Homo sapiens: one gene and its partners. The protein of the gene in region 2 purifies or fractionates together with the protein of the main gene of each other region. This does not show direct contact. Each region holds a gene or a part of one and is shown on either strand. Other genes may lie near its edges. The genes, in order: SF3A1, PRPF8, TTC27, SNW1, DHX15, DHX9 and HNRNPU.

The links.
Region 1: the proteins of PRPF8 (region 2) and SF3A1 purify together in Homo sapiens (affinity purification with mass spectrometry; 4 studies listed by BioGRID and IntAct, with this or other methods). This does not show direct contact.
Region 3: the proteins of PRPF8 (region 2) and TTC27 purify together in Homo sapiens (affinity purification with mass spectrometry; 3 studies listed by BioGRID and IntAct, with this or other methods). This does not show direct contact.
Region 4: the proteins of PRPF8 (region 2) and SNW1 purify together in Homo sapiens (affinity purification with mass spectrometry; 5 studies listed by BioGRID and IntAct, with this or other methods). This does not show direct contact.
Region 5: the proteins of PRPF8 (region 2) and DHX15 fractionate together in Homo sapiens (co-fractionation; 3 studies listed by BioGRID, with this or other methods). This does not show direct contact.
Region 6: the proteins of PRPF8 (region 2) and DHX9 fractionate together in Homo sapiens (co-fractionation; 3 studies listed by BioGRID, with this or other methods). This does not show direct contact.
Region 7: the proteins of PRPF8 (region 2) and HNRNPU fractionate together in Homo sapiens (co-fractionation; 3 studies listed by BioGRID, with this or other methods). This does not show direct contact.

The regions. Positions count from the first base shown.
Region 1 is NC_000022.11:30,343,111-30,347,186, reverse strand, and holds part of SF3A1 (splicing factor 3A subunit 1), read left to right. Parts: intron 1-667; coding exon 668-875; intron 876-1,996; coding exon 1,997-2,254; intron 2,255-4,076. UniProt on the Homo sapiens protein: Component of the 17S U2 SnRNP complex of the spliceosome, a large ribonucleoprotein complex that removes introns from transcribed pre-mRNAs.
Region 2 is NC_000017.11:1,678,029-1,682,104, reverse strand, and holds part of PRPF8 (pre-mRNA-processing-splicing factor 8), read left to right. Parts: intron 1-66; coding exon 67-285; intron 286-414; coding exon 415-627; intron 628-1,050; coding exon 1,051-1,176; intron 1,177-1,273; coding exon 1,274-1,379; intron 1,380-2,305; coding exon 2,306-2,496; intron 2,497-2,694; coding exon 2,695-2,814; intron 2,815-2,898; coding exon 2,899-3,088; intron 3,089-3,223; coding exon 3,224-3,343; intron 3,344-3,452; coding exon 3,453-3,587; intron 3,588-4,076. UniProt on the Homo sapiens protein: Plays a role in pre-mRNA splicing as core component of precatalytic, catalytic and postcatalytic spliceosomal complexes, both of the predominant U2-type spliceosome and the minor U12-type spliceosome.
Region 3 is NC_000002.12:32,630,619-32,634,694, forward strand, and holds part of TTC27 (tetratricopeptide repeat protein 27), read left to right. Parts: coding exon 1-82; intron 83-3,257; coding exon 3,258-3,387; intron 3,388-4,076.
Region 4 is NC_000014.9:77,729,836-77,733,911, reverse strand, and holds part of SNW1 (SNW domain-containing protein 1), read left to right. Parts: intron 1-1,310; coding exon 1,311-1,427; intron 1,428-2,782; coding exon 2,783-2,924; intron 2,925-4,076. UniProt on the Homo sapiens protein: Involved in pre-mRNA splicing as component of the spliceosome. As a component of the minor spliceosome, involved in the splicing of U12-type introns in pre-mRNAs.
Region 5 is NC_000004.12:24,556,903-24,560,978, forward strand, and holds part of DHX15 (ATP-dependent RNA helicase DHX15), read right to left. Parts: intron 1-4,076.
Region 6 is NC_000001.11:182,880,559-182,884,634, reverse strand, and holds part of DHX9 (ATP-dependent RNA helicase A), read right to left. Parts: coding exon 4,027-4,076; intron 3,372-4,026; coding exon 3,210-3,371; intron 3,116-3,209; coding exon 2,988-3,115; intron 1,497-2,987; coding exon 1,267-1,496; intron 1,116-1,266; coding exon 1,000-1,115; intron 23-999; coding exon 1-22. UniProt on the Homo sapiens protein: Multifunctional ATP-dependent nucleic acid helicase that unwinds DNA and RNA in a 3' to 5' direction and that plays important roles in many processes, such as DNA replication, transcriptional activation, post-transcriptional RNA regulation, mRNA translation and RNA-mediated gene silencing.
Region 7 is NC_000001.11:244,858,007-244,862,082, reverse strand, and holds part of HNRNPU (heterogeneous nuclear ribonucleoprotein U), read left to right. Parts: intron 1-1,608; coding exon 1,609-1,748; intron 1,749-2,708; coding exon 2,709-2,808; intron 2,809-3,241; coding exon 3,242-3,354; intron 3,355-3,808; coding exon 3,809-4,072; intron 4,073-4,076. UniProt on the Homo sapiens protein: DNA- and RNA-binding protein involved in several cellular processes such as nuclear chromatin organization, telomere-length regulation, transcription, mRNA alternative splicing and stability, Xist-mediated transcriptional silencing and mitotic cell progression.

The DNA of each region.
Region 1 (4,076 bases), on a different chromosome or scaffold from region 2:
TAGCTGGGACTAGAGGCACACACCACCATGCCCAGTTAATTTATTTTTATATTTTTTTGTAGAGTTAGGGTCTTTTCTTGTTGCCCAGGCTCAAATCAACTAAATTTTCATGTCTTTCAGTCTTTCTTGTTACTCAGAGGACAAAGTCTAGGTTTGGTGCTCATGTACCTTTTACACCTCTCCAGCACTTGCTACCCCTTTGAACTAAGAGAATTAGTCTCAGCAAACTTCCAGCTAAACTTTGACAGTATTACTTTGTTTTCATTATGTTCACTTTTGACTACCTTTTGTTGGTAAAGGCATACTGATTTTTTTTTATTTGAAGTAGTAATATGTATTCTCCATCTTAAATAGATTTTTTTTAAAGTAAATTTTATTAAAAGAAATGAGCGATAGCCTAGATGGTTTTGGAAATGGCAGAACTGGAAAAGGAGCTAAGGAATGACTGGGTTCAGGGAAACCCTGTGGCAGAGGTGGCCTGGTTCAAGCTGAATGAGGCAGATGGCACTGATCGCCAATGCCAGGAAGCTAGAGGAGGACGTCTGCTGAGGGATGGGCTGGTTTGAGCAGTGGGTGGTGGCAAGAAGGACGTTCCAATGGGCAGTGTTCTAGATCACAGCAGGCACAAGGGAGTGGTGTTTATTCTTGTTGTTTTTTCTTCCTCCAGAAACGGGCCTGAATTTGAAGCTAGGATCCGACAGAACGAGATCAACAACCCCAAGTTCAACTTTCTGAACCCCAATGACCCTTACCATGCCTACTACCGCCACAAGGTCAGCGAGTTCAAGGAAGGGAAGGCTCAGGAGCCGTCCGCCGCCATCCCCAAGGTCATGCAGCAGCAGCAGCAGACCACCCAGCAGCAGCTGCCCCAGAAGGTTTGGAGCCCAGTGCCCCCTTCACTTACGCAGGGCTTGAGAGGGAAACAGGGATAGGGAGGGAGTACACAATTAACTCCAAATCTCACAACCACCCAGGGAGAGAAGTGAGGTCGTTATCCCCATCTCTCAGAGGCAGACCGAGGCCCAGACAGCAAAGTACTGATGTTAGTTGGCATTTCCCGAGCACTGCTTGTCAAGCTCTGTGCTTGGTACTTCAGGAGTCTTGTCTCATTGACTCCTCACAGAGGCTGTATGAGGAACCTGAGAGTTGGGGGACGTGTGATTTATTCAAGGCCTTGCTCAGGGTGTGAGGGCAGTGCCGTGATGTGAGGGCAGCACTTCCTACTTGGCTGTGCTGAAGGATGCAGTGTGGCCTGTGGGCTCCTCCTTGTGCCATCCCTTCCCTTCTATCTCTTCTTCCCAGGACCCCTCCATCCTGGCCTCCCCTGATACCACCTTCCCTGTGCTGAGGCCCAGCACTAGGGACTATTAGGATTATGAATGAAGAGAGAGGCTGACATGTTTTTCCTCCTGTCCAGACCTGCCTTCTGCACTCCTGAACCATGGTGGAAAAGGCAGTCCCTCCTTTTGCAGTGGGCTATAAAGGTTGAAGTCAGGTTCTAAGACCTTGCGTTGCAATGAGGCCTAGGACCTCAGGCTACCTCAGTTTCTTCATCTGTAAAGAGGATTCACAGTACCTGTGCTACCTCATCGTTCATGCGGAGGTCATGGAAACACTTTGTACAGTGGGGTTTTCTGCACACATGTAGGCCTTCTGCACATCCATCCCTCTTGGATGGGATTTAATAAGTCCTATTCTTGTTGGATCTTCTGTCACCCAGTTTTGGCCCTCAATTTCAAGGCAGGAGCAGAGATACAGAGGGGAATGGTTCTCACTCAGCCATTCAGGAAGTTGAGGCCATAGTTGGCTGGGAAGTCAATGCTCTTGTGATTTAGAATTCTCTCACACCAAGTGCTAGTGGTGTGTGCATAATTAACAGAAGTCTAGAGGTTCACAGCATCCTGCTGAGGGGTGCATGCCCATGTCCCCTCCCCTCCCCTCCCCTGGAGCCTGTTCACCCCTGTGCCTCTCGCCTCATACTCCCTTTGCATCTTAGGTCCAAGCCCAAGTAATCCAAGAGACCATCGTGCCCAAAGAGCCTCCTCCTGAGTTTGAGTTCATTGCTGATCCTCCCTCTATCTCAGCCTTCGACTTGGATGTGGTGAAGCTGACGGCTCAGTTTGTGGCCAGGAATGGGCGCCAGTTTCTGACCCAGCTGATGCAGAAAGAGCAGCGCAACTACCAGTTTGACTTTCTCCGCCCACAGCACAGCCTCTTCAACTACTTCACGAAGCTAGTGGAACAGTACACCAAGGTGCCTGGGCAGGATGGGGCTGGGGTCCTGGGCCCAGGAAAGGAAAACATCTTATGCTTGGAAGCACTGTGTCCACTCACTGTCTACAAGGACATCGCTTCTCCATGGGGCCTCTGAGCAAATGTTTTGAATCCCAGTTTAATGTAAAACCTTGATTTCTATTCAGTTATTTCTTTAAGTGCAACACAGACTGCCGGTTTCTAAAGAGAAGGGAAATACATGCTTGCTAACTACCATTAGGCGATTGCCTGCTATGTGACAAGGCCACGTGGTGCTTGCTGCTTTTAAGTGCATTTCCGTTTTCAGTTGCCTAGTAAGGCCCTGAGAAGAAGCCAACCTTTAAGAGTTGCCTCCTTTTACCTAACTTAGTCCTCACAAGAAGCCATGAGGTGTTTTCCCCCCATGTTTGAGAAGCAGAAACAGGCTCAGAAAGGTGAAGTCACGTACTCAAGGTCTGTCAGCTAGTAAGTACTATGCTGAGATTTAAACCACATTTGACCCTAAAACTTTGGTTCTTCAGCTTATAAAGTGCCTTAAATTGGAAACAGCATTTAAATAGGTGTTGAGAGACACTTTGATGTCATGTAAGTCAGTATAACTAACATCACTAAGAAATTATGTATGCAGCATCTTCTCATTTAATCTCCGGTAGCCTATAAGGTAGCCACTATTGCTATGTTCACTTTACAGAAGAGAAAATTGAGGTGCAGTGAAGTTAGCATGGCCAGGGTCACATAGCTAGGAGGTGGCAGGGCTGGGGCTTGAGCTCTGGCATTTTTACTCCAGACCCTAAGAACTCAATTATCATTTGACAGAGCTGCAATCAAGAATCAGGACAAGTCAGTTCTGGCATTTAAAATAATCAGATTATTAATTTATTGCAAAGTGCACTGACAGCTTTGCCTGTGGCACATTTTTCTTGCTACACATGTCATGGAGGTTGTTTTCCTTCCCTTTACAGTGGGATGGTCTGTACATCTCTTCTTCATATCCAGAAACAACACCTCAAAGATCTGACTTGAAAGGACTTGAGAATTTCCTAACTCTACTCACTTTTAAGTACATAATTAGAATTTTAACAATGTGTGTGTTTAGAAAATGACCAAATCCAGAAGCTAGTATGGTAGCTAAAATAACAGTCATTCAAGGCCCAAGGCCCAAGGGTTTCTATAAATATGCAATATCAATTTTAAATGAACCCTGGATTAATTTCTCCCAGTGGACTGCTTCCAGGGTTAAAGGTCCCAGATCACTTTTTATTCTGTTACTTTCCTGTTTTTTCTTCAGAACTTGGGTATTGGCATTTACCACTGTAACTTGAGGTTCCTGCTGTCTGTTCTAGCCATGGAAGACTGAGCAGATAGATTCTTGGGGTAGAGGTGGAAGGAGGATTGGGATAGGGCCGAGCCACTTTGCCAGTGGCAGTAGAAGCTGTTGGGGCTGTTTAGAACAAAGGCAGCATTTGTTCTCTCAGTAAGTATACATTGTCAGACATTATTCAGGGGGCTGGAGATGTAATCGTGAACAAAAGAGAAATCCCTGTCTTCATGGAGTTTCTAGTCTAGTGAGGAGGAGTCAAGTGCATTGTCAGTGTCTGTTACATGGTGCTAAATACTACAGAGAGAAAGCAGGGAGCAGAAATAGAGGGAGGTGGGGCAAGTACGCTGCGGTTCTGAATAGGATAGTCAGGGGGGACCTGCGTAGTGTTTTTGAAAGGATGAGAGCAGGTCAGTGTCATGAAAGCAGCCGTCTCATACTGACCGTGTTCTGGGTAATCGGCTAGTGCTTTGCATGCTTTCCTGCTAATCCTCGAAGCCACCTT
Region 2 (4,076 bases):
GTGGTGGTGGTGGTGGTGGTTGGGAGGCAGTGGGTAGAAATGGTTGTGTGATGTCTTGCCTTCCAGGTCAATGTGGATTATGATGCGCCGAGAAAAAAGAGATAGGAGGCATTTCAAGAGGATGCGTTTTCCCCCTTTTGATGATGAGGAGCCGCCCTTGGACTATGCTGACAACATCCTAGATGTTGAGCCACTGGAGGCCATTCAGCTAGAGCTGGACCCTGAGGAGGACGCCCCTGTGTTGGACTGGTTCTATGACCACCAGCCGTTGAGGGACAGCAGGAAGTGAGTGATAGATGGAGATACTACACCTGGGAGGAGTTCTGGAAATGCAGAAGGAGTCCTGGGAGATCAGTAGGTGGTATGGGTTTGTCTAGCTGCTTACTTGAGGTGGGCCTTTCATTTTTTACCTAGGTATGTAAATGGCTCCACTTACCAGCGCTGGCAGTTCACACTACCTATGATGTCGACTCTCTACCGCCTGGCTAATCAGCTCCTGACAGACTTGGTGGATGACAACTACTTCTACCTGTTTGATTTGAAGGCCTTCTTTACGTCCAAGGCACTCAATATGGCCATTCCTGGAGGCCCCAAATTTGAACCTCTTGTTCGAGACATCAACCTACAGTGAGTTGGAGAGATTAGGGATTTTAGACATTTTGAGTTGAATGAAACGTAATCTTGATCCTTAAAGTCCTGATATAACTTCCAAATTAGTCTGTTTACACCAGGTGCAGTGGCTCACGCTGTAATCTCAGCACTTTGGGAAGCTGAGGCAGGAGGATTGCTTGAGCCCAGAAGTTTGAGACCAATCTGGGCAAAATGGCAAAACCCTATCTTTACCAAAAAATGTAGCTGGGCGTGGTGACACTCACAGCTTCGTGTAGTCTCAGTTACTTGGGAAGCTGAGCTGTGGGAGGATTGTTTGAGCCCAGGAGGTCACGGCTGCAGTGAACGATGATCATGCCATTGCATTCCAGCTTGGGTGATAAGAGTGAGACCCTGTCTCAAAAAAAAAAAAGTCTGCTTATTCTTGATGTTGTACCCTAGGGATGAAGACTGGAATGAATTCAATGATATTAACAAGATTATCATCCGGCAGCCTATCCGCACTGAGTACAAGATTGCTTTTCCTTACTTGTACAACAATCTTCCACACCATGTCCACCTCACCTGGTAAGAGACCTGGAACACAACATTTGGAAAGGAGAAGGCTGCTGTTTAGGTTGGGCCAGGGCGGGAAAACTTTGGCTGACTCTTCCTTTCATTTTAGGTACCATACTCCCAATGTTGTATTCATCAAAACTGAGGATCCTGACTTGCCAGCTTTCTACTTTGACCCTTTGATCAACCCAATCTCCCATAGGCACTCAGTCAAGGTGAGGAAGGGAAGGGATGCTTTCCCTCAGCTCTTCTAGGAGAAATGCGTGAGGTTGGCTGATGTTACTAAACGCTCAGGTGGAGGGAGATGTGTTTTCCGTCTTGCTAAGTGTTCCCCTTGAGCTATAAGCGAATATGAGAATTCAGCATTTGCTTTAAAACATGTCATTGGTATAATCCTGTTTTCTGTGATTATCCTTTTGGACTTTACGGTTCTTTTCTTGGGTGCTCTAGATAATCTGTCCCGGTCTGTCTCTATTGTGTTTGTTTGTTTTAGCCTTTATATTGAGATGTAGTTAACATACCATACAAGTTATCCATTTAAAGTGTGTAATTTGATGGTTTTTAGCTTATTCTCAGAGTTGTCCCAACTGTCACGACATGCAATTTGAGAATATTTTTATTACTTGAGAAAGAAACCCTTAGCAGTTACTCGCCATTTCTCCCCAACTTCCTTACGCAACCACTAATCTACTTTCTGTCTATAGATTTGGCTATTCTACACATTTCATATGATAGAATGAAATAGAATCGTACACTATGTAGTCTTCAGTGACTGGCTTCTTAAGCTTACCATAATGTTTTTGATGCTCATCTGTGTTCCGTTGTGTCCAAGCCCAGTGTTTGGAGCTTGGGTGGGAGATGATTGCAATGTTGACCTCCTGTGATGTTGGGGCTCCATTGGGAGGCTTTCTGGTGGTCAGCCAGTTGAGGTGTGAGAAGTGACGCTTGCTTTCCTGGTGGCCCTGTCTTGTTCTTTGCTGTCTTGGTTTCCTTTGTGCTGGCACTTCAGGGCTGCTTTTGTCAGACAGCCCAGTTTCCATAGCAGATACAGGCTTTGTGCTTGGCCCCAGAGAATTTCCCTCATCTTAAGTCTGTGCCTAGTTCAGCAGGAGCTAAACCCTTAGAGGGATTCCTTTTTCAGAGCCAGGAACCATTGCCGGATGATGATGAGGAATTTGAGCTCCCGGAGTTTGTGGAGCCCTTCCTGAAGGACACACCCCTCTATACAGACAATACAGCCAATGGCATTGCCCTGCTCTGGGCCCCGCGGCCCTTCAACCTACGCTCTGGTCGCACCCGTCGGGCCCTGGACATACCCCTTGTCAAGAACTGGTAAGGTTTTTCCCTGTGGCAGGGGGAATGATAGTGGATGTGTAGGAGAAAAGACTCCAACTAGGTGGGCATGTAGCCTTTTTTTTAAATTCTTTTTTTTTTTTTCCCATAAAAATGGTAGACAACCCAAGGCTTGCAGCCTTTAGCAGAGTGTCTGGAAGAAGAGATGGCCAAACTCTGGTGGGCTTATTTTTCCAGGTATCGGGAGCATTGTCCTGCCGGGCAGCCTGTGAAAGTGAGGGTCTCCTACCAGAAGCTGCTTAAGTACTATGTGCTGAATGCCCTGAAGCATCGGCCCCCTAAGGCTCAAAAGAAGAGGTAAGGTGCCCCAGGGGCCCTGCGCAGACTTCTGTTCCAGAGATATCAGTAGGCTGACTCTTACTCTCCATGTTCCCACCTCAGGTATTTGTTCCGCTCCTTCAAAGCCACCAAATTCTTTCAGTCCACAAAGCTGGACTGGGTGGAGGTTGGGCTCCAGGTTTGCCGCCAGGGCTACAACATGCTCAACCTTCTCATTCACCGCAAAAACCTCAACTACCTGCACCTGGACTACAACTTCAACCTCAAGCCTGTGAAAACGCTCACCACCAAGGTGCCTGCATTGGACCCTAGGGGCCTCCTGGGCTTCAAGGACGGACAGTTGTTTTCCTCTGGTTACTGATGAAGGCATACATCAGTTGGGTCCATTGCTCATTCACGTTCTGTCTGTTTTTTGCATCTTCTCCAGGAAAGAAAGAAATCTCGTTTTGGGAATGCTTTCCACCTGTGTCGGGAAGTTCTGCGTTTGACTAAGCTGGTGGTGGATAGTCACGTGCAGTATCGGCTGGGCAATGTGGATGCCTTCCAGGTAAGGTTAGGTATTCCCAACCCCTGCCTGGGTGAGGACGCTGGAGGAAGCCTGTGCTGACCGTGGAGCTGGTTTAAGCTCCAGGTCTGATGGGGCAATTGTATTGCAGCTGGCAGATGGATTGCAGTATATATTTGCCCATGTTGGGCAGTTGACGGGCATGTATCGATACAAATACAAGCTGATGCGACAGATTCGCATGTGCAAGGACCTGAAGCATCTCATCTATTATCGTTTCAACACGGTGAGACCTTGACTTTACTGACTTTCTTTTTTTTGAGACAGAGTCTTACTCTTGTCTCTTGGGCTGGTGTGCAATGGCACGATCTTGGCTCACTGCAACCTCCGCCTCCTGAGTTCAAGCAATTCTCCTGCCTCAGCCTCCCGAGTAGCTGGGATTACAGGTGCCCGCCACCACGCCTGGCAATTTTTTTTTTGTTTTGTTTTGAAACTGAGTCTTTCTCTGTTGCCCCAGCTGGAGTACAATGGCACGATCTTGGCTCACCACAGCCTCCGCCTCCCGGGTTGAAGTGATTCTCCTGCTTCAGCCTCCCAAGTAGCTGGGACTACAGGCGCGCACCACCATGCCTGGCTAGTTTTTGAAATTTTAGTAGAGATGGGGTTTCACTGTATTGGCCAGGCTGGTCTTGAACTCCTGACCTCAGGTGATCCACACTCCTCGGCCTCCCAAAGTACTGGGATTACCAGCGTGAGTCACCGTGCCCAGCCTCAC
Region 3 (4,076 bases), on a different chromosome or scaffold from region 2:
CTGAAGAAAAGATTGATAGCTACCTGGAGAAGCAGGTAGTAACATTCCTGGATTACTCAACAGATTTGGACACAACGGAAAGGTAGAATTTTATTTGAAATTTTCATAGAGGAACAGAGCAAATACATTTAATAGCACCTTGACAGGGTAAGGCCCTGATTTTAGCAGTTGAGAAACCTTGCCTTATATTTTACTCAAGACTCATGGTGTACCAAGTAATCTATGTAAAAACTCATCCAGAAGTCCATCCAGAATGAAGAAGTAAAGTGGTGCAGGATAAAATGGTTTCATATATGAGACTGGCACATATTTTGGTGTTAACTGCAAATGCTTAGGTCTGGTCGGCTTTACCCACCGGCAAAACTTCAGACCTTATTTCCTTTAACTTAAAAACATACTTTCAGGCTGGGTGCAGTGCTTCACGCCTGTAGTCCCAGTGCTTTCGGAGGCCGAGGCGGGCGGATCACATGAGGTCAGGAGTTTAAGACCAGCCTGGCAAACATGGTGAAACCCCGTCTATACAAAAATACAAAAATTAGCTGGGCATGGTGGCATGCGCCTGTAATCCCAGCTGCTAGGGAGGCTGAGGCCGAAGAATCGCTTGAACCTGGGAGGTGGAGGTTGTAGTGAGCCAATATCCCGCCATTGCACTCTAGCCTGGGCGACAGAGCGAGACTCTGTCTCAAAAAAAAACCAAAAAACAAAAAACATACTTTCAATCTTGTTATTTCTGCATAGCTGAGTGCTAATTTGTAACTATTTATTATGTTTTAGATTATTATCTTTATAGAGCTCAGAGAACTTAATGTTTTTGTAAGGAAGCCCTTGGTTTACCTTCTTCCATTAAAGTTTGTGTAATTTTATAGGGTTAAGTATAGCAGATAGTTACACAGCAGGGAAACCTAAGCTTTTCAGTGGCTTATATTTCATTGTTATAAATTTGATACCTCTATCTTTCGTCTACTATCTGTGGCAACCATGTCAAGCTTTAATTATCTTATAAATGCATGCAATTTTATTTTACCATTATTTCTAGGAAATAGCTTCATTTAGTCCTTCAACAAATAAACTATTGTAGTAGATGTGGAGGTTCTGAGGATGAATAAAGCATAACCCATATTCATAAGGAGTTTGCAAAAGAATGCTACTACAGGCTTTTAATTTTATTTTGAAAATTAATATTATTCATTTTCTTTTTTCTTTTTTTTTTTTGATGGAGTATCACTCTGTTGCCCAGGCTGGAGTGCAGAGGCGTGATCTCGGCTCACTGCAACCTCCGCCTCCCAAGTTCAAGTGATTCTCTTCCCTCAGGTTCCCATGTAGCTGGGATTACAGGCCTGTGCCACACCTGGCTCATTTTTTTTGTATGTTTAGTAGAGATGGGGTTTCACCATGTTGGCCAGGCTGGTCTTGAACTGCTGACCTCAGGTGATCTGCCCACCTCGGCCTCCCAAAGTGCTGGGATTACAGACGTGAGCCACTTCGCCCAGCCTCCATTTAATTTTTTTTAGTTTACTGGTAGTTATGTTCCTTTGGTATCATTCTTTTTTTTTTTTTTTTTTAGTTCCTTTTTGTAGAGATGGTGTCTTGATATGTTGCTCAGGCTGGTCTCGAACTCCTGGGCTCAAGCAATCCTCACCTCTGCCTCACTAAGTGTGGGGATTATAGGCATGAGTCACTCCGCCCGGCTGGATTCTCATTGCTTTCTTATATGTGTGCACTCTCATAGCAACTAGCCTTGTGGCACCCATTAAAACAACACATTCACACAAATGCATTATTCACTGATATACCAGATTTCTATCTTGTCACATAAAGCTAAAAAGAGACATTTCAGTTGACTCATTTTCAGACATTTGAAAGTTAAAGTGTATTTTCAGTTCACCTTATGGATTTTGTTTTTTGATTAGGACAGTTTATTAAGGCTGTTTTCTCCAAATTTCCAAACTTCTGATTGCATACCAGCTCTTTTGTTATCTTTTTTCTCTAATGCTGCTTATTTGCATTGCATCCAGAGTTTTATATTTTTGCTACCATAGGCTTGTATGTTTGATTTTTTTTTTTCTTTTTCTGAAAGACTCTTCCTTTTAAGGAAGGGCCTAGGGGCTGTGGGGAAAAAAGTGATTACTAATACTTTCTCTTCAGAATGAAACTCCAGGATTCCCTGGCTGTTATTTGCTAGAGTTGGATCTGTACCTATTTAGATCCTAATTTAGGGTTTGGCACATTATGGCTGGCAGGCTAACTAAGTGGCTAAGAATTAATGGGTTTTACATTTTTAAAGGGTTGGAAAAAAACAAACATGATATGCAAAGCCTAAAATATTTCATATTTAGAAAAAGTTTGCCTATCCCTGTCTCACATCACAGCAAGACTGAAAAATAGAGTTTTCACTAAAATATCTATATGTTTTGTTGTTGTTGTTGTTCTAGCATTTGGTGGTATGGGATTGGTAAACAATTAGCAACAACTTTATATCATCACTTTTCTTTTGTATAAAGTCAGTTTTCTATACATCTTGCAACATCAGAGCTGTTAAAGGGAGTGCAAGAAAAACTTATAGATGTCTGATCAGAACCTAAATCAACACCGTTCAAGATAATTTTCCGTGGAGATAGAAGTGCTCTCTATCTTCATTGCCCACATGGTAGCCACTAGCCACACTTAACTATTGAGCACTTGAAATATGGAAAGTATGACTAAGGAACTGAATTATAAATTTTATTAATTTTAACTAATGCAAATTTAAACCATGTTTGGCTCGTGGCTATAATATTGGATATTGTAGACCTAATTTCTTTTTTTTTTAAGAGAGACAGGGTCTCGCTTTATCATCTAGGCTGGAGTACAGTGCTATGATCAAAGCTTACTACAGCCTCAAACTCCTGGGCTGCAAGCAATCCTCATGCATCAGCCTCTTGAGTAGCTGGGATGTACCACCATGCCGGCTAACTTTTAATTTTTTTGTAGAGACAGGGTCTCACTATGTTTCTCAGGCTGGTTTTGAACTCCTGGGTTCAAATGATCCTCCTACCGTGGCCTTCCAAAGTGCTGGAATTACAGGCATGAACCACTGTGCCTAGCTAACCTAAATTGTTTTAAGTTTTAGAAATTTTTTTTTTTGGTAATACTCTAGGATAGTCTCAATAAATGTTGATAGATATTATTTTCTTAATAAAACTGAAATGGAATAGTGTGTTTGAGATTATACAGTGATAGTAGTTCATATTTATTTCTTTAACCATTCTTATATGCAGACAACAGTTGATATTTCTACTTGGTGTGAGCAGTTTGCAACTTTTTGTTCAGAGCAACTGGACGGGGCCCCCTGTTGACTTACACCCTCAGGACTTTTTGTCATCTGTTTTGTTCCAGCAATTCAGTGAGGTATGCTTCTTGAAAATGTTGTATGTAATTATTATTATGTTATTTATTTTTTATAAGCAGGTCTTTATAAACTGGAACTCATAGTAGGAAAGAAACATGACTTTATGGTTTGCACAAAAGTACTAAGAATGCTTGTTCATTGATCAGATTTTCACAGATTTCCAGAAGTTCCTTTGTCAAACTCCTCTTCATACACACTCCATTTTATGGAGCTGTGTTAGCTGTGTTTTTTAATGAAAGTACAGACAGCTGCACCAGTTGTTTAGTTGGTTGTATCACCTCAGTTACATAAAGATTTTTTTTTTTTGAGATGGTATCTCACTCAGTCATCCAGGCTGTTGTACAGTGGCTGGATTACAGCTCACTGCACCCTCAACCTACTCAGGCTCAGGCGATCTTCCCACCTCAGCCTCCCAAGTAGTTGGGACTACAGTTGCATGCCAACATGTCCAGCTAATTTTTTTGTAGAGATGGAGTTTTGCCATGTTGCCCAGGCTGGTCTGAAACTCCTGGGCTCAAGTGGTCTGCCTGCCTCAGCCTCCCAAAGTGCTAGGATTATAGGTGTGAGCGCTGTACATAAAGATCTTTAATGGCAAAGCAGCAAATCTGGAAATCTGTTTAATTTTATTTCAGGTAAGTTTTTAACTAATTAATTAATTAATTTTTTTTGAGACAGAGTCTTGCTCTGT
Region 4 (4,076 bases), on a different chromosome or scaffold from region 2:
GTCAGATATCTGGAAAATAAAGCTAAGCCTGAAAGTTACATAGACATTCAAGTACAGTTCTTGAGTTATTGAAATGGGATGCAAAGTTTTAGAATGTAGAAATTCAGTTGTTTAGCAAACATTTTTTTTTCTTTTTTCTTTGGTTTTTTTTTTTTTTTTTTTTTTTTTTGAGACGGTCTCGCTCTGTTGCCCAGGCTGGAGTACAGTGGTATGATCATGGCTCACTGCAGCCTCAACCTCCCAGGCTCAGGCGATCCTCCCACCTCAGCCTCCCGAGTAGTTGGGACCACAAGTGTGCCCCACCATGCCTGGCTACTTTTTTGTATTTTTGGTAGAGACGGGGTTTCACCATGTTGCCAGGCTGGTCTTGAACTCCTGGGCTCAAGCAATCCACCTGCCTTGGCCTCCCAAAGTGTTGGGATTACAGGCTTGAGCTACTGCACCCAGCCTTTTTTTTCTATTTACTAAAACTTCAGGATTCTAAGAATATAACAGATCATTAAGACAGTACAGCAGATTTAACTTCCTATAGATGCTAAGATTATAGTGATTCTACCTTTGTTTGACTGTTAAATTTACTTGAGGAGCAACTGTTGAACTGTTTGACAGTGATTTCCTTTTATTAAAATCGACAATTATTAACACAAATATCTATTTTTCCAGAGCTTGGGTTCTGAAATCCTGCTGAGTTTAAATCCTAATCGCCCACTTACTAACTGTATGACCTTGGGGATGTTACCAAAGCATCAGTGAAATGGACACAATAATGTTAGAAGCTTTATAGAGTTATCGTGAAGGTTAAATGAGACCATAGGTGTAAGTGCTTGATCTTCTACATAAAGCACTCATTGATAGCTGCTGTTGTTTTGCATCATTGTGAAGAAAGATGCAAGGAAAAAGAACCTCCAGTTAAGTGGTTCTCAAAATGTGGGCATATTTAAATTTAATTTTAGCCAGGCTCGATGGCTCATGCCTGTAATCCCAGCACTTTGGGAGGCCAAGGGCGGATCACTCAAGGTCAGGAATTCAAAACCATCCTGGCCAACATGGTGAAACTCCGTCTCTACTAAAAATAGAAAAACTAGCCGAGTGTGTGGCGCACGCCTATGGTCCCAGCTACTCGGGAGGCTGAGGTAGGAGACTCGCTTGAACCCAGGAGGCAGAGGTTGCAGTGAGCCGAGATGGCACCCCTGCCCTCCAGCCAGGGTGACAGAGCAAGACTCCAGCTCGAAAAAAATAAAATTAATTTAACTTCAGACGATTAATTGAAGCACTTCTGTGACTGGGTTTTCTGTCTGCTTTCACTCTAGGGTTATACAATTCCATTAGACAAACGTCTGGCTGCTGATGGAAGAGGACTACAGACAGTACACATAAATGAAAATTTCGCCAAATTGGCAGAAGCCCTCTACATTGCTGATCGGAAGGTTGGTTTGTTATAATTTGTTTAATGCTCTTGTTACTTTTAAAATCCATTCTTGGTTACCTAAGGTACTGATAATTTAACTATAGTACCGAGCACCCAAAGAGAGTCTCACCCATGGTACGTGTGTCAGAAATGGCAGCTGCTAGTTGGCAGCTCTCTGCATGCTCCCAGCTTTTGTAGATGTGTACATACACCCCACAGTGGTGATCCGGCTCCCTCACAACATGTCAGAATAATGGTTTCCTAGGATGATCCCATTTTTTGAAGATTGCTAGGTTTCATAATTTTTGATTTCAAATTTTCCTCTATTTTAGATGTAGATGTCCCCCAAAAGGGCAGTTGCAGGAAAAGGCAGATAAACATTCTAATGAATTGAATAGTACATAAAATGGCGTTCATAGCATTGGCCATCTATTAATGTTACATAATGTATTAAATATTATGGAATTAGGCTGGGCACAATGGCTCATGTGTATAATCCCAGCATTTTGGGAGGCCAAGACTGGTGGATTCCTTGAGGTTGAGAGTTCAAGACCAGCCTGACCAATGTGGTGAAACTCCATCTCTACTAAAAATACAAACATTAGCTGGATGTGGCATGCACCTGTAATCCTAGCTACTTGGGAGGCTGAGGCAGGAGAATCTCTCGAACCCAGGAGGTGGAGGTTGCAGTGAGCCAAGAACGCACCACTGCACTTCAGCCTGGGCAGCAGAGTAAGACACTTCATCTCAAAAAATATATGTAAATATAAATATTATGGAATTAATATGTGATATTGAAGTTCACATGCATCATAGCATGTGTTTGGAACATAAAAAAAATGTCTTTTGTATCACAGTGAGTACCCTTATAAAAATTATCTAGCAGATGTAAGTTAAGATTTTATCTTGAGTTGACTTGATTAACTTTGAAAGTGTTATTAATTTTGAAAATGTTATTTTTTTGAGATGGATCTCACTATGTTGCCTAGGCTGGTCCCAAGCTCCTGAGCTCAAGCAGTCCTTCCACCCTGGCCTCCCAAAGTGCTAGGATTGCAGGAGAGAGCCACTATGCCTGGCTTTAATTTTGTTCTTTAGATTGTTTCTGAGAAAGCATTAGTGAAATACTTGACTTACAAGATTAATTGGGGTCACGATAGTTTCAATCACTAAAATATTCCCAGAGAAAAAAGCTGACCTTGCAGTGTCTTCCAGGCAGGATATCTTTTAGTGGACAAGACTCTTTGTTTTAATTAGCAATAACAAATCTGAATTCTGTATAATTGCTCTTACCAGCCAGATGTTAGGGAGTTGGATGATAGCCATAAATATTTATCCCATGATAGTGTCCTGTTTAACATGTGACTTTACCAACAGGCTCGTGAAGCTGTGGAAATGCGTGCCCAAGTAGAGAGAAAAATGGCTCAGAAAGAAAAGGAAAAACATGAAGAGAAACTTAGAGAAATGGCCCAGAAAGCCAGGGAGAGAAGAGCTGGGATCAAAACTCATGTGGAAAAAGGTATGACATTCTCATTACTGAATTGAATTTTGCTTGGTGAACAAAATATATCTTATTTTAGAAAATCTTTTTCCTACTGCATATAAAGTAGGTACATATAAACAAAATTTAGATACATCAGATATAGTGTAGAAATGGAGAGTAATCTCTGCCTTAGTAAGCTGAAGCAACAGGAGATAAGAAAAAAGTGGGTCTTCAGTTTGGGACTGTACCAGAAATTTTTAAACTTCTGAGCAGTGTACTTTTCAAAATTGCATTATTACTCAAATGATAGGCTTGATTTTCTCTTATCTTAATCTCAAAACTTAAGAGAAATTAGGTATCTAACAGAATAATTCAGCTCCCTCATATGGTGAAGTAATCCAGAGTTTTTCTATCTTGTAGGCTCCAATGCATTTCTCATCATTAAATCTGCCAGTATTTTCTCTCTGACTTTACTTAGTGGTCTACATTGGTGTATTAATTCAATTAGAGTGGGAAGTCGAGTCCTAAGTATAATTCAAGAAATTTTGTGAGGGTGGTTATTTTTTTTTCATTACTAAATTCTTACCTGGTACATTTATTCATTCTTTCATTTATTTAGTTCATATTGAGCATCTGCTGTGTGCAAGGTTCTCTTTTAGACACAAAGTGTTTTTGCTAGACAGTGGGTAGGGGGATGGGATATAACAGTCAACATTCTGGTGAGTGTAGACAGACAGAAATTAATCATGTAGTATAGTAAAAGGTAATAATTGCTGTGGAGGAAAAATAATACAGGGAAAGAGGATATAAAATTGCCAGAAGGTGAGAGTGGTCAAATAGCCCTCACTTCTGAGATGGTGCTGTTAGCAGAAATACTTGAAGAAAGTAAGGAAGCAAACCATGTGGATTTCTGGGGGAAGAGCATCCCACACAGAAGGGCCAGCAAGTACATGGCTCTGAAATGGGAGTATGCCTAGTGTGGCCCAAGGAAGAGCAGACAGGCCAATATGACTGGATTTGTATGAGAAAGAAGGGGATAAGTAGGAGATGAGGTGTCAGAATAGTTAGGGCAGGTGGGAAGAGTAGTGGCCAGATCATGTATGGCCCTTTAACCTAAAGATAAAGCTTTTACTACAAGTGAAAAGGGAAGCAATTGCAGGGTTTTGAGCAGAGTAATGACCTGACATA
Region 5 (4,076 bases), on a different chromosome or scaffold from region 2:
AGGGCTGAAAGCGTGAGTCCTCCCACCCCAAAGAAATAATCTTAAAGCACAAAAGGAATTCAATAATAAAAGAAGTGGGACTGAGGGGCAGCATCAACACTAAACAAATGCTGATACATAAATGGAAGATAAAAACAAATGACGTCAGATTGATCAATGAACCAAAAAGGGAAACCAGGCTTAGTTAGGGATGGCTCAAGTGAAGGCTGCTAATATGGACTCCAGTTATCACAAGACAGGCGCCACGTAAGAATGAAGGCAATGAGATCAAGGGTCAAGATTGTATAACTTTGCAGGGGTCAGCTATCTCCTGTCCATTCCACACTGGTTACTGATGTCACTATGAAAAACAACTATCTTCCTTTTGGCACCTGGACAAAACACAGGATGCCTTTAGATGCTTAAGTCACAGCTCATCCAGTTAGATAAAAACCCATTATTTTATTTACGGATTTAAAAGTGGTATTAAAAAATCTGAAGCCATCATTTATGAATTCACCATTTTGGCTCTTTTTATGATTAGTCTAACCTAATCTTTCATGGACCAACTGGATATTTTTAGCTCATGCCATCTGCTGGAGCATTAAGTTCAGCAAATTGATAGTGTACAACAAAAAGAAGTGAATTCTCTTTATTTCACCTAAACTTAATTCTAAATTTCATAAACTATTGGCAAACAAATCCATCTTAACTCATTTATATGCTTTATGCTTCTTGTCCTTGGTCATATTTTTAAAAATAAACTACCACATTCCTGGGAGGGACAAACAGCATTAGCTATAAGGTTATTTTATGTAAGACCAGGAAAGAAAAAACACTGCCAATTAAATTATGACTCAGTGCCTTAAAGACAGTAAAGCATAGTGCAAGAATCAGCAACACTATAGCCCTTAGCTGCTTTGAAATTTCTTTGATCTGAGGACGTTTGGTAATTTTTCCTGTCTTCCGATATATCACAGACACGAGAGAGGCAATACTCTTGTACATGATCTCAGTAGCAGAACATAACATACAGCTTCCTCTATTTGTGAGTTACCTCTCTTAGCTTCAATAGAGCGGTCTGTTGATTTGCAAGGCAAAAAAAAAAAAAAAGGATTGGTTACTCTTCCAACATTTGCTCAAATACTAGCATATTTACACCCTATTGCTCCATTTCCCAGCCTCTTGATACTCAGTGCTCATTTCAACATGGAATCATAGTGTAATATTTAATATTTCTGAAGGCATTTAAATTAGCAAATACTCTCAGTATATACAGACCCAACAATTCACATTATTTGAGGTGAAAATATGTACAGCTAGATCGAGTTCAAGCATTCACAGGCAATAATAACCAAACTGCCACCAACTACAAGACCTCAGTAGATTGTGAGACACATTGTAACTTCAGACAATAAAAACTTGAGAAAAAAGTCACAGAAATGATAAAATATGACTTTAAGTTGAAAACTTCTTAAAACTAGTTTTAAAAGTCACCTTCTTTATTTTGATCTTTTTTCTCCTCACATTCCTCAAGCTTTAATCAATCACAATATGGAGCAGAGCTAACCAACAGACATTCCTTTTTATTTTTCTAAGGGAAGAAATGTTACAGATGGCAGACTATAAATATTATAAATTAGATTAATGGAAATATTTTATTGTGCTTTATTAACTATGCATATTGCAAGTACTTAGTTAAATGGCCAAAACTTCTATCATCCAGACAATTCCCAATGGTTCCTCAATACTGATCATCACCCAGTGATCCCATTCCATGAGGTGCTGCACTTAATTACTTCTTGCATCACCAGTTAATATGGGATACTGCTGTTTGTACAATGAATAATTTCAAGAAAAATGAAATTTCAAAATTTCAAAGGTCTCAAGGATATAGTCAAATTTACTTCTTTTCCAGTGAAGAAAACGAAAAAAACCGTAGTCAACTTTTCCAGACTCTCAAAACCAGTTACTAAGACTAGGTATCACTGTACTGATTCCCAGTCCTAAGTCTCTCCTACATTAACACACTCTTCACAAAGTCCCAGATAAAGGAACCCATTGTACGTACAAATTTCATAGCAAAAAGCTATTCGAAAGATATGCCCAGGTCCTAACCTCTGGTACCTATCAACGTGACATTACTCAGAAATAGGGTCTTTGCAGAAGTAATTAAGTTATAAATTTCAGACAAGATCGCCCTGAATTTAAGAGTGGGCCCTAAATCCAATGACCAGTATCCTTACAAAATGTAAAGAGAGGGAGATTTGAACACAAAAGGAAAGCCACGTGAAGATGAAGGCAGAGACTGTGGTTACAAAGCTACAAGCCAAGGAATGCTAAGGACTGTTAGCCACCACCAAAAGCTAGGAGAGAATCATGAAAGACTATTGCCACTTAGAGCCTCCAGTTGGAACTAACCTGCCAACATACTGTTTTTGAACTTCTGACCTTCAGAATTGTGAGAGAATGAATTTGTCAATTTTAAGCCACTAAAAAAAAAAAAAAAAAAAAAGAAACAGTACTTGACGATTTGCTATACTGTTAAATGTATGAAACCCTTTGCTTAACAACAAAAAACTAACTTGACACAGAACTCAGGAAAGGCAGAATCAGGCACTGGAGATAAAAACTACAGTCCATTTTCCTTTATGTAAGAGTCAAGTTTTACTAACTTTCTTAGTAGTAATGAAATATTTATCCAGGCTAAGGAATGAGTCACAATAGTAAAATTTTAAGTTTGAAGTTTCAATGATGAATTAATAAAAGTGCCACAGGATAGCCAAACTCCACACTTTACTGGGTGCCTTACTATCTACAGTGTTTTCCAACTGTTTTAGGGCAGAGATGCTCTTAAAAATTTATTAGCATCACCTTGGAACTAGTAAGAACTACAAAACTTGAGTCTCATCTCAGATCTACTTAATCAGAAATTTTGAAGGTGAGGCATAGCAATCTGCTCTAACAAGTTTTCAAGTGATTCTGATGATTGCTAAAGTTTAAGAAACACTAGTCTAAATTAATCAAATTAAACAAGAAGCAGATTACCTAAAGATGTCTAAAGTAGCAAAAACATCCTTGGAGTAAGTAACAGTTCAGCTTTTCAACTGTGACTGCTTAATAAAATATACCAAAAACCCCATGTACTGAACAGTATCAACCTAGCTTAAGTATTTTTTTGCAACAGGCACATGTAGATGGCGTAGTATAACTACAAGCCAACTGCCAACTATGATCTCAGCAAGATGACGACACCTAACACATCACTAATTCTGATTTGAACAAACCATGGTAAAACATTACATCCTGCAAATATATTACTTATTTATATTTTTGTATTTATATATATGTATATATATTTTATGAAACATTCCAAAAAATTACAAACTAAGCCTAAGAAAGGCAAAAAATCATTTTTATAAAATGAAAACCAGAAATCCCTACCTCAAAGCTTATGATCCCTCCCCAGTAAAATTCCAGCTTGGTTAAATGTTTAAAACAAAAACAAAATAGTAAAATACATGGATTAAATTATTTAAACCAACACTGGGCAGGGTATGATGCAAAACCTGGACATCATAAAAGTGGTTAATTCAATACGTGTACAAAATTCAAGTCTCTATGTAGCATGAAGTGTCATAAAGCAAAGAAATGTATGACAAACTGAGCAAAAATTGCAACTTATATCCAAGGTGCTAATTCTGTTATAAGCTCCTACAAATCTATAAGAAAAAGGCCAATCCACTATAGAAATATGGGCAAAGCATATGATGAAACATCTAATTCTATCAATTTTATAATACCGCATATTTGGTCAAATTTAAATTCTCTGAAACTAAGATGCATTTTAAAATAGCACCTTAAAAACAGCTATCAACTAGGTAGAAATCCTGAGAAGATGAAAAAAGCACCAGTCTCAGATTCCAAAAAGAAATACAAATGGCTAATATACAAAAATGTTCAATTTCACAGAAAATAAATGCAAATTAAAACCATAAAGTAATCCCATTTTTCACTTAACAAGATTGACAAAGATAAAAAGTTTTATAATGCTGAGTTGGCAAGGGTAAAGAAACAGATGCTCATTTACTGATTCC
Region 6 (4,076 bases), on a different chromosome or scaffold from region 2:
ATGAGATATTTGCAGTTTAATCCTAAAGTGGCGAAATACATTAAAAATAAGAGAGGGAGTATATGTAGAAAAAGACCATTATCTCTCAACTTCACACATGGCACATTATAGAATAAATTTAACTTCTTAAGCATTAATATTAAAAAAAAAAACTACTTATAATGGCCCCAAACTTAGGCAAACACAGATATGAAGAGTAGTTATAATCAGCACTAGCTTCTTAAAATTCACTGCTAGCTATGAGCAGGAGTCTTAAGCCAAAAAGTCTATCAAGCCAAATAAAATATAATAAAAATATATGCAATATATAATAAACAAAAAACAAAGTCCAGCAATATGGATCATTCAGACTTTCTTTTTTTTTGAGACAGAGTCTTGCTCTGTTGCCCTCGCTGGAGTGCAGTGGCGTGATAGCTCATTGCAACCTCCAACTCCCAGGTTCAAGTGATTCTCCTGCCTCAGCCTCCAGAATAGCTGGGACTACAGGTGTGCGCTACCACACGGGGCTAATTTTTTTGGATTTTTCGTAGAGACAGGTTTCACCATGTTGTCCAGGCTGATCTTGAACTTCCTGAGCCCAAGTGATGTGCCGCACCCAGCCAGATCATCCAGACTTTAAAATAATGAATTTAAGAGACCCAGAATACTGGCATTTTCTAGGTTTTCAAGAATATGATGGCTGAGCCTACTGGCTGTCCATTAAGCTCTATTCCATTTTTGCCCAGTGCTTACCACTAGTTTTGAATCAATATACAGAGTATGTGAAAGGGTACTCAAGCTTCACTTAGATTCTGATTCCATAGTGGTGGTGTGCCTAGTGGTAGACATGGCTCAAATTCCTAATGCATTTGCTTCTACTGGTATCAATTTAAGATTAAGTATATAGTATATAATTAAGTTAGATATAATTAGTATATAATTAAGTTAGATTAGCAGCTGAATTCCATCATATTGTAATTCTAAGAATTCAGTTTGGAGTTCACATCTGAAAATCCATACCAGTCATCTACAAGCACAATCTGCCCATCAGATTGGACTTTCTTGGAGGCAAAGAGAAGCAACTGCAGGGGGGTGACTAAAGTCATGCCTTTAGCAGAGATGGCTCGAGTTCGAATCTGCAAATGGAGAAAGAGACAATACAAAATGGTTGACATTCCAACTTCCAAATACCGCTATATACTGTGCTTTGAAAATCAAAATTCATGTTCCTAATGATTGTAAAGACAATTTCAACTTTCAATGTAAACTTTTCTAGTCTTTTCTTACCTTTTCACCAAATACAAAGAAGGGAGATGGGTACTTCATGTCTTGGCTACTAAAAGGACAATTAACAGATGATTTGTGGATAAGTGCATTACGCCCTTCAGTGGTGAGAATCTTCCTCTTTTCCTTATGATAGCATACATTGGGGTACACACCAAAGGCCAGGAGGGAGATAACAACATCCAAATTATTATCTGGTCCAGTGTTAGTAAACACTTGTGTCAACAAACAATCTGTTAAGAGGAGCACAGTGAAAACAAAAATCAGATAACTGGCTGATCTTCACATTACATGCAAACTATTTAAGATAATTCAGAGAACTGACTCTTCCTCACTCTTTTCACATAACCTGTCTGTAAAACTTTCTCTTCTCAGAATCCTTACACCCAGATTAAGTTCAAGGAGTAATGTTACTGAGTTTCCACAATAAGAAAACGAAAACGTCTCTATTCTCTTATAGACTCAACCATAAATAAGCTTGGGGTGATTACTTTTTTTTTTTTTTTTTGAGACGAGTCTCGCTCTGTCGCCCAGGCTGGAGTGCAGTGGCGCCATCTCTGCTCACTGCAAGCTCTGCCTCCCGGGTTCATGCCATTCTCCTGCCTCAGCCTCCCAAGTAGCTGGGACTACAGGCACCCGCCACCACGCCCGGCTAATTTTTTGTAGTTTTAGTAGAGACGGGTTTCACCGTGTTAGCCAGGATGGTCTCGATCTCCTGACCTCGTGATCCACCTGACTCGGCCTCCCAAAGCGCTGGGATTACAGGTGTGAGCCACTGCGCCCGGCCGGGGTGATTACTTTTTAAAGTCCCCCAATCAACCATCTACTCTGAGAATAAGAGCTTGACTGATAGGACCACAAAGTATTTATCTGCTACTCTTAAATAGCTGTTAGTTGTAGAGAAGATGGAGATAATCTAAGAGGACACCTACTGGAATGAAGGCTGACGTTTTTACCCAGTCTACACTTTGAGTACTTAGCTACTGACTGGAAAGCATGACAGTCAACCGCTGAAAGCACAGACATATTTTGTTCTAGACAAACGAGTTCTAGTCTTATAGCCTCCTAATTGGATGAATTAAAGACAATTTATACCTTGGTGCCTGTTTCATTACCTGTAAAATTCATCTCAAGATTCTAGCACATGAAGTTTTCCCTTTCTTATAATTTTGAGGAAAAACTAAAATTTCGGCTGGCTTATGACAGAAGAGAACCACTCACTACTTTGTTTAGTTATTCCAATTACAGCCTTTAAAAATTTACCATCTTGCCCAACTACCTTCTGTCTCTCAACAGTCTTATTTCTGGTTATGCATTCCAGTTCTCAATGTTTTAGGAAGTAATTCTATATTTTAACCTAGTTGGAAAAGAAAAGTACTACAGCTCATCAAGAAACATGGGTTGGTTTTTTTCTATGTTAGATGTCATAAAGTCCTTTAATCATCTGTACACCGAAAGTATAAATTAAAGTCATTTAAAATTTAATGTGGTAGAATTTACTTCAAGTCTAAATGCTAATAAATTACTTTGCAAACCACTATAAGGTTATCAGCAAAGTACTCATTCTGGGAACTAGACCAGTGTTCACGAGAACTAAGAAATAGTCGGGAATATATAAAAATCATAGGGTCTAAAATTTGAAACTAAAATACACTTTGCTGTCAATTTGCATGTACTATATAAATGTCACTTTAAAGATATCTTAAGAATGGAAGAAGTCTTACCTTCTGGAAACCCAGAATTAATCAAAATCTCTTTGAGCTGAACTTTGGCTTCCCAAGTCATTCTTAGTGTAGCCATATTAAGTCTTTTGTGCTCACAAAAACGTATCTCTGCTTCTTCTCCACCCATTCTAAAATAAATTGGCATGAGAAATCATTCTCTAAGACCAGAGAACTAAATACAAATGAGAAACTACAGACAGCTCACCCAAATCTTACTCATACCTAGCATCATCCCAGGCTTGGAATACTGATAAAAGGGCTACGTGATCAGAAAATCTGTTTCCAGCAAAATTTCGATGGATATAGCCCAGCCGCTTTCCTTCATTGATGAAAGGCTCTGGAAAGCAGGTAGCAGCAGCAATGGTACAGATAGCATCTCCCACGCTGAAATACACAAAGACAGTTAAATCCAGACTAGATCACAATGTTGTTGCCAGCAGCTCAGGTAGGACTGTCGACTGTGGGTTGCAGTCTTTATGGCTATGATTCTACTTTTATTTGCAATGAAACTGGCTTAACAAAGAACTTTATAGCTGCTCTCTTCAGAATCAGAAAGAAAAAAATGCTCTGATGCTCTAATGGCCACATATTTATCATAAATTATGACCAAGTATATTTTTCCTTTTATATTCTCTCTTCCCCATCATACCAAATCTCTTAATCTTCAACATTTTCTGATAAAATAAACCTCTTTTCCTGACACCGCTCTTTCAAGACCAACTATTAATAACAAGGGACCCTCCCACCCTGGCCTCCCAAAGTGCTAGGATTCAAGGTGTGAGCCACATTGCCTGGCCTGCTTGCTTTTAACTTTTGAGAAATCAGTGCCCTTTTCCCCATATTGGGCCCAGATATCCACCTACTGGAACTGTTCATTTTTTTAGTGTTACACTGCTCTCAATATCTAGGTATGTTACTTCCCTGAAGAACATTTAGGATTTTTTTTTTGTCTATCTGAGCCAATACTGCTTTTACAGGGAGGAGAAGATTCTGAAATTATTCTGCCACTTAACGAAGAGAAATAAAACAAAGCACTTACTAGAAAATACACCCCATTATCATCATTTTGCCAAAACGAGGCTCAATGGG
Region 7 (4,076 bases), on a different chromosome or scaffold from region 2:
CTAGTTAAATATTTACTAATGACTTCTCCCATTAGCACACAAGTATATTCCCTATTTTAAAAGATTGTAATATTACTTTTTCAATAACTGCTCTTTTGTTCTCAATTCCAGTTCAGTAGCTGCTGCTTTAAACATAAGTTGATTTCTTCCAAAGACCTGAGGCAGCAGCAGTGGGCTATCACTGGGCCACTAGCTTTCTTCAGCAGCGAATGGTATCAATGGCAGTGCAGCACTGTAAATACTGCTACTTTACCCAGTTGGGTTGCAATTGAGTGAGAAAGTATTGCAAACCTCTAAGTGGGCTTTGACTGTCAGACTTGTTTTTTTTTTTTTTTTTTTTGTTACAAAAAAACGTAGTTGGTTTAGTGATGAGAATGTACAACTCTGGGTGTGATAAATAGACCAAAGGATAAAAATAACTGTTTCAAAAGTATCAGCTATGGTGTCAGCCTGCTGTGTTAGATGGAAGGCATTGGAGCTTAGCTTCTCATGTTTTCTTGTACAAATTGGCTTTATTCAGATTTGTAAGAGTGTCAATGTAAAACTCTTTCTTACTGGAATATCCTTTACAGAAGGTTGAGATAGTCATCTGAGCCTTTTTAAAAGAAAAAACTGCAGGTGAAAAAGGAGTTAGTTGATGTGAAAGTTTTAGTGAAATTCTGGGTTGTATAAATAAGTTGCTAGGAATTGGCAAGGTAGTGAAGTGGTGACTCACACAGGTAATGTAATTGTTAGATTTTTTAGCAAATCAGGAATATGTCAATATAAGTACAATGTTGAATTCAAACAATCTGTTGAATTAAATTCTGTTGATTAGAATAACTCTAATTTAAGAAAAATTCCAAACTGTAGATTTATTTTTCTCTGATCAGTAAAAAGAAAATGAGTTCCAGCTTGACTTTAGCTGTTCAAGTGAGAAGTCTGAGGAAGTGCATGTTAATGAGCCAGTGACCCATAGGTAGCTGGGTTAAAGACACTTTGGATTTGGATAATCCGGGAAGCAATTAATCCCTAATTGTTGAACAGGCAGTCCTGGGTAAAGAGGACCTAAAATGCTGCACTATTAACAGCATTAGACGGCCAGGTTTGTACTTCATAGTTTTAGGCTGTCTTCTTCACAAGTTTTAGAAAAAGAATTTAGGAGCTAGAGCCCTGGTGCAGGATCAACAGCAGCTCATACTCCTATTTTAAAATAATTTGGTCGTGGCCTCCCTTCAGTTTTAATGTGGCACTGGTAAATCTACCTGGTTCTGGCATGCTTCACTTTGATTTCCTGCTATCCTCTACTGCTTGCCTCTAAATCAAGGTAAAGAGCAGAGCAGGTATGTATTAATGTCACATTGTCTTGATTATTTTAAATACTTAAAATATACATGTTAAACCTTGGTATTAGTTTCACAGGCAGTTTACTTTTCAGTACATAATTTAACAGGAGTGACTTGGTGGGAGTGGGGCTTTAAACTGAAAATTGGAACAACAGCATGATGTGGAGAAAAGTTGTGCAGCATTAAGAAGTACATGCAAAAATTAAGTAACCAAGTTTTGTCTACATAGCAGATATGTTTACATTGGATGTCAAAAGTAACACAGTATTTGATATAATTACAGATAATTGTGATCTACATTTTAAAATATCAAGAGATCGTCTCAGTGCTTCTTCCCTTACAATGGAGAGTTTTGCTTTTCTTTGGGCTGGAGGAAGAGCATCCTATGGTGTGTCAAAAGGCAAAGTGTGTTTTGAGATGAAGGTAAATGCAATTTTATGATTTGTTTGTTTGTTTGTGGAGACAGTCTCACTCTGTTCCCTAGGCTGGATTGCCGTGGTGCGACCTAGGCTCACTGCAACCTCCGCGTCCTGGGTTCAAGCGATTCTCCTTGCTTCAGTCTCTCAAGTAGCTCGGACTAGAGGCACACACTACCACACCTGGCTAATTTTTGTATTTTTAATAGAGATGGGGTTTCACCACGTAGGCCAGGCTGGTCGCCAACTCTTGACCTCAGGTGATCCACTGTCTCGGCGTCCCAAAGTGCTGGGATTACAGGCATGAGCCACTGTGCCCAGCCTTTTTTTTTCCTTTTTAAAATAGTGACAAGGTCTCACCATGTTGCCCAGGCTGGTCTTGAACTCCTAAGCTCAAGTGATCTGCCCGCCTGAGCCTCTCAGAATGCTGGAATTACAGGTGCTTCATACTGCTAAGTTATCAAAGGTACTTATTTTTGAAGCTTCCTGTAAATTAAAAGAGGAGCTTGGAACCTTCATTTTGTTGTGACAGTTAATCACGGTTGTTATGTTAGAACTTGCCATGCAGAGCTAGGCGATTTTTTATTTAGGGTACTTCATTTTTATCAAGCATTTGAAAGGGCCACCAAAGAGTTAAAAATAAAATTTGGTTACATTACTGCTTTTGTTGGTGAGAAAAACATTAATTGTATCCTTTAATTGGCTTTAAGTTAAAGACTGACAACATGAACTTTAAAAATATTAAGTATTCTTTTAAATATGGGTCAAATAAGTATTTAACTCTTTAAATTTCAAGTTATAAGCACATCAGTTTAAAGTTCTTACAAATATTGGGGGTGGGCTAGAGTGTGCCTTCTTTGTATTTATAGCTAGAGGAAGATTAGCCCGTGGCGCAATGAAATATGCGAGAGTTAAGGGGTTACCTCCTTGGTGTATTATTTTAATTATTTAATGATTTGACTTTCAGGTTACAGAGAAGATCCCAGTAAGGCATTTATATACAAAAGATATTGACATACATGAAGTTCGTATTGGCTGGTCACTAACTACAAGTGGAATGTTACTTGGTAAAGCTTCTTTTTGACTGATGTGGGCTCATGAATGTTCAGGAGGGTCTGATTTCAGTGTTTTTTAACTAGAGGGCATTCTAAGCCTTTTGTCTGTTTTTATCTATTCTGTTAATACTTCAGACAGGTAATATTAGCACATAGTAGGCACAGGCTACATTTTAGTTTTTGTTCCTTTATTAGAAGTTTATGACCAATGGTTGAAATAAAATCTTACCCGTGATATGCAAATCGTCAACTAATTTGGTCTCTGCGTATATATCCCTCCTAACTTCCATCAATTCTGGTACAGAGATAGAAAAGTAATAGTGTCAGTGACAGGTGATTAGGTTATATGCTTATTTCTCTTGTAGCCTACATCTTAAGTAGTAAAATAGATGAGTCTTTGGACTATTTTAAACATCTACTTCATGAAGATTAATTATTTTCTTAGGTGAAGAAGAATTTTCTTATGGGTATTCTCTAAAAGGAATAAAAACATGCAACTGTGAGACTGAAGATTATGGAGAAAAGTTTGATGAAAATGATGTGATTACATGTTTTGCTGTAAGTTAAAGCTAACTTTCTATGTATAAATGGCAAAGTTAGTAGCTATATCTAGGAACTTTAAAGAAGCTTTACTGAGGTCAGTTTTCAATATGAGCAACAAAATACACCAGTCCCTGGATTAGTGTAAAGACTTCATTCAGCAGTTGAATTGGGAAAACACAGGACATTTTTGAGGAACTCACTAATTCATTTTGACTGAAAACAGTGAACATGAAATTGACCTAGAAAATTCAGTCTAGCTTCTAGGTCAGTATTGTTTCTGGTTCTGGAGATACGTGCTTCATGGTTTACAACCATCAGATTTCTTAACTGTGTAGCCCTTAAAGGCCACCTAATAGTTCTTTAACCTGTAGCTTCCACAGGATAAGCTTTGCTCCTAATTTTAATTCTTAGTTTTTTAGAAAGTTTAAGGAAGCAGATTTTAACTGTTGAATTTTTTTCTGTGTAACAGAACTTTGAAAGTGATGAAGTAGAACTCTCGTATGCTAAGAATGGACAAGATCTTGGCGTTGCCTTCAAAATCAGTAAGGAAGTTCTTGCTGGACGGCCACTGTTCCCGCATGTTCTCTGCCACAACTGTGCAGTTGAATTTAATTTTGGTCAGAAGGAAAAGCCATATTTTCCAATACCTGAAGAGTATACTTTCATCCAGAACGTCCCCTTAGAGGATCGAGTTAGAGGACCAAAGGGGCCTGAAGAGAAGAAAGATTGTGAAGTAA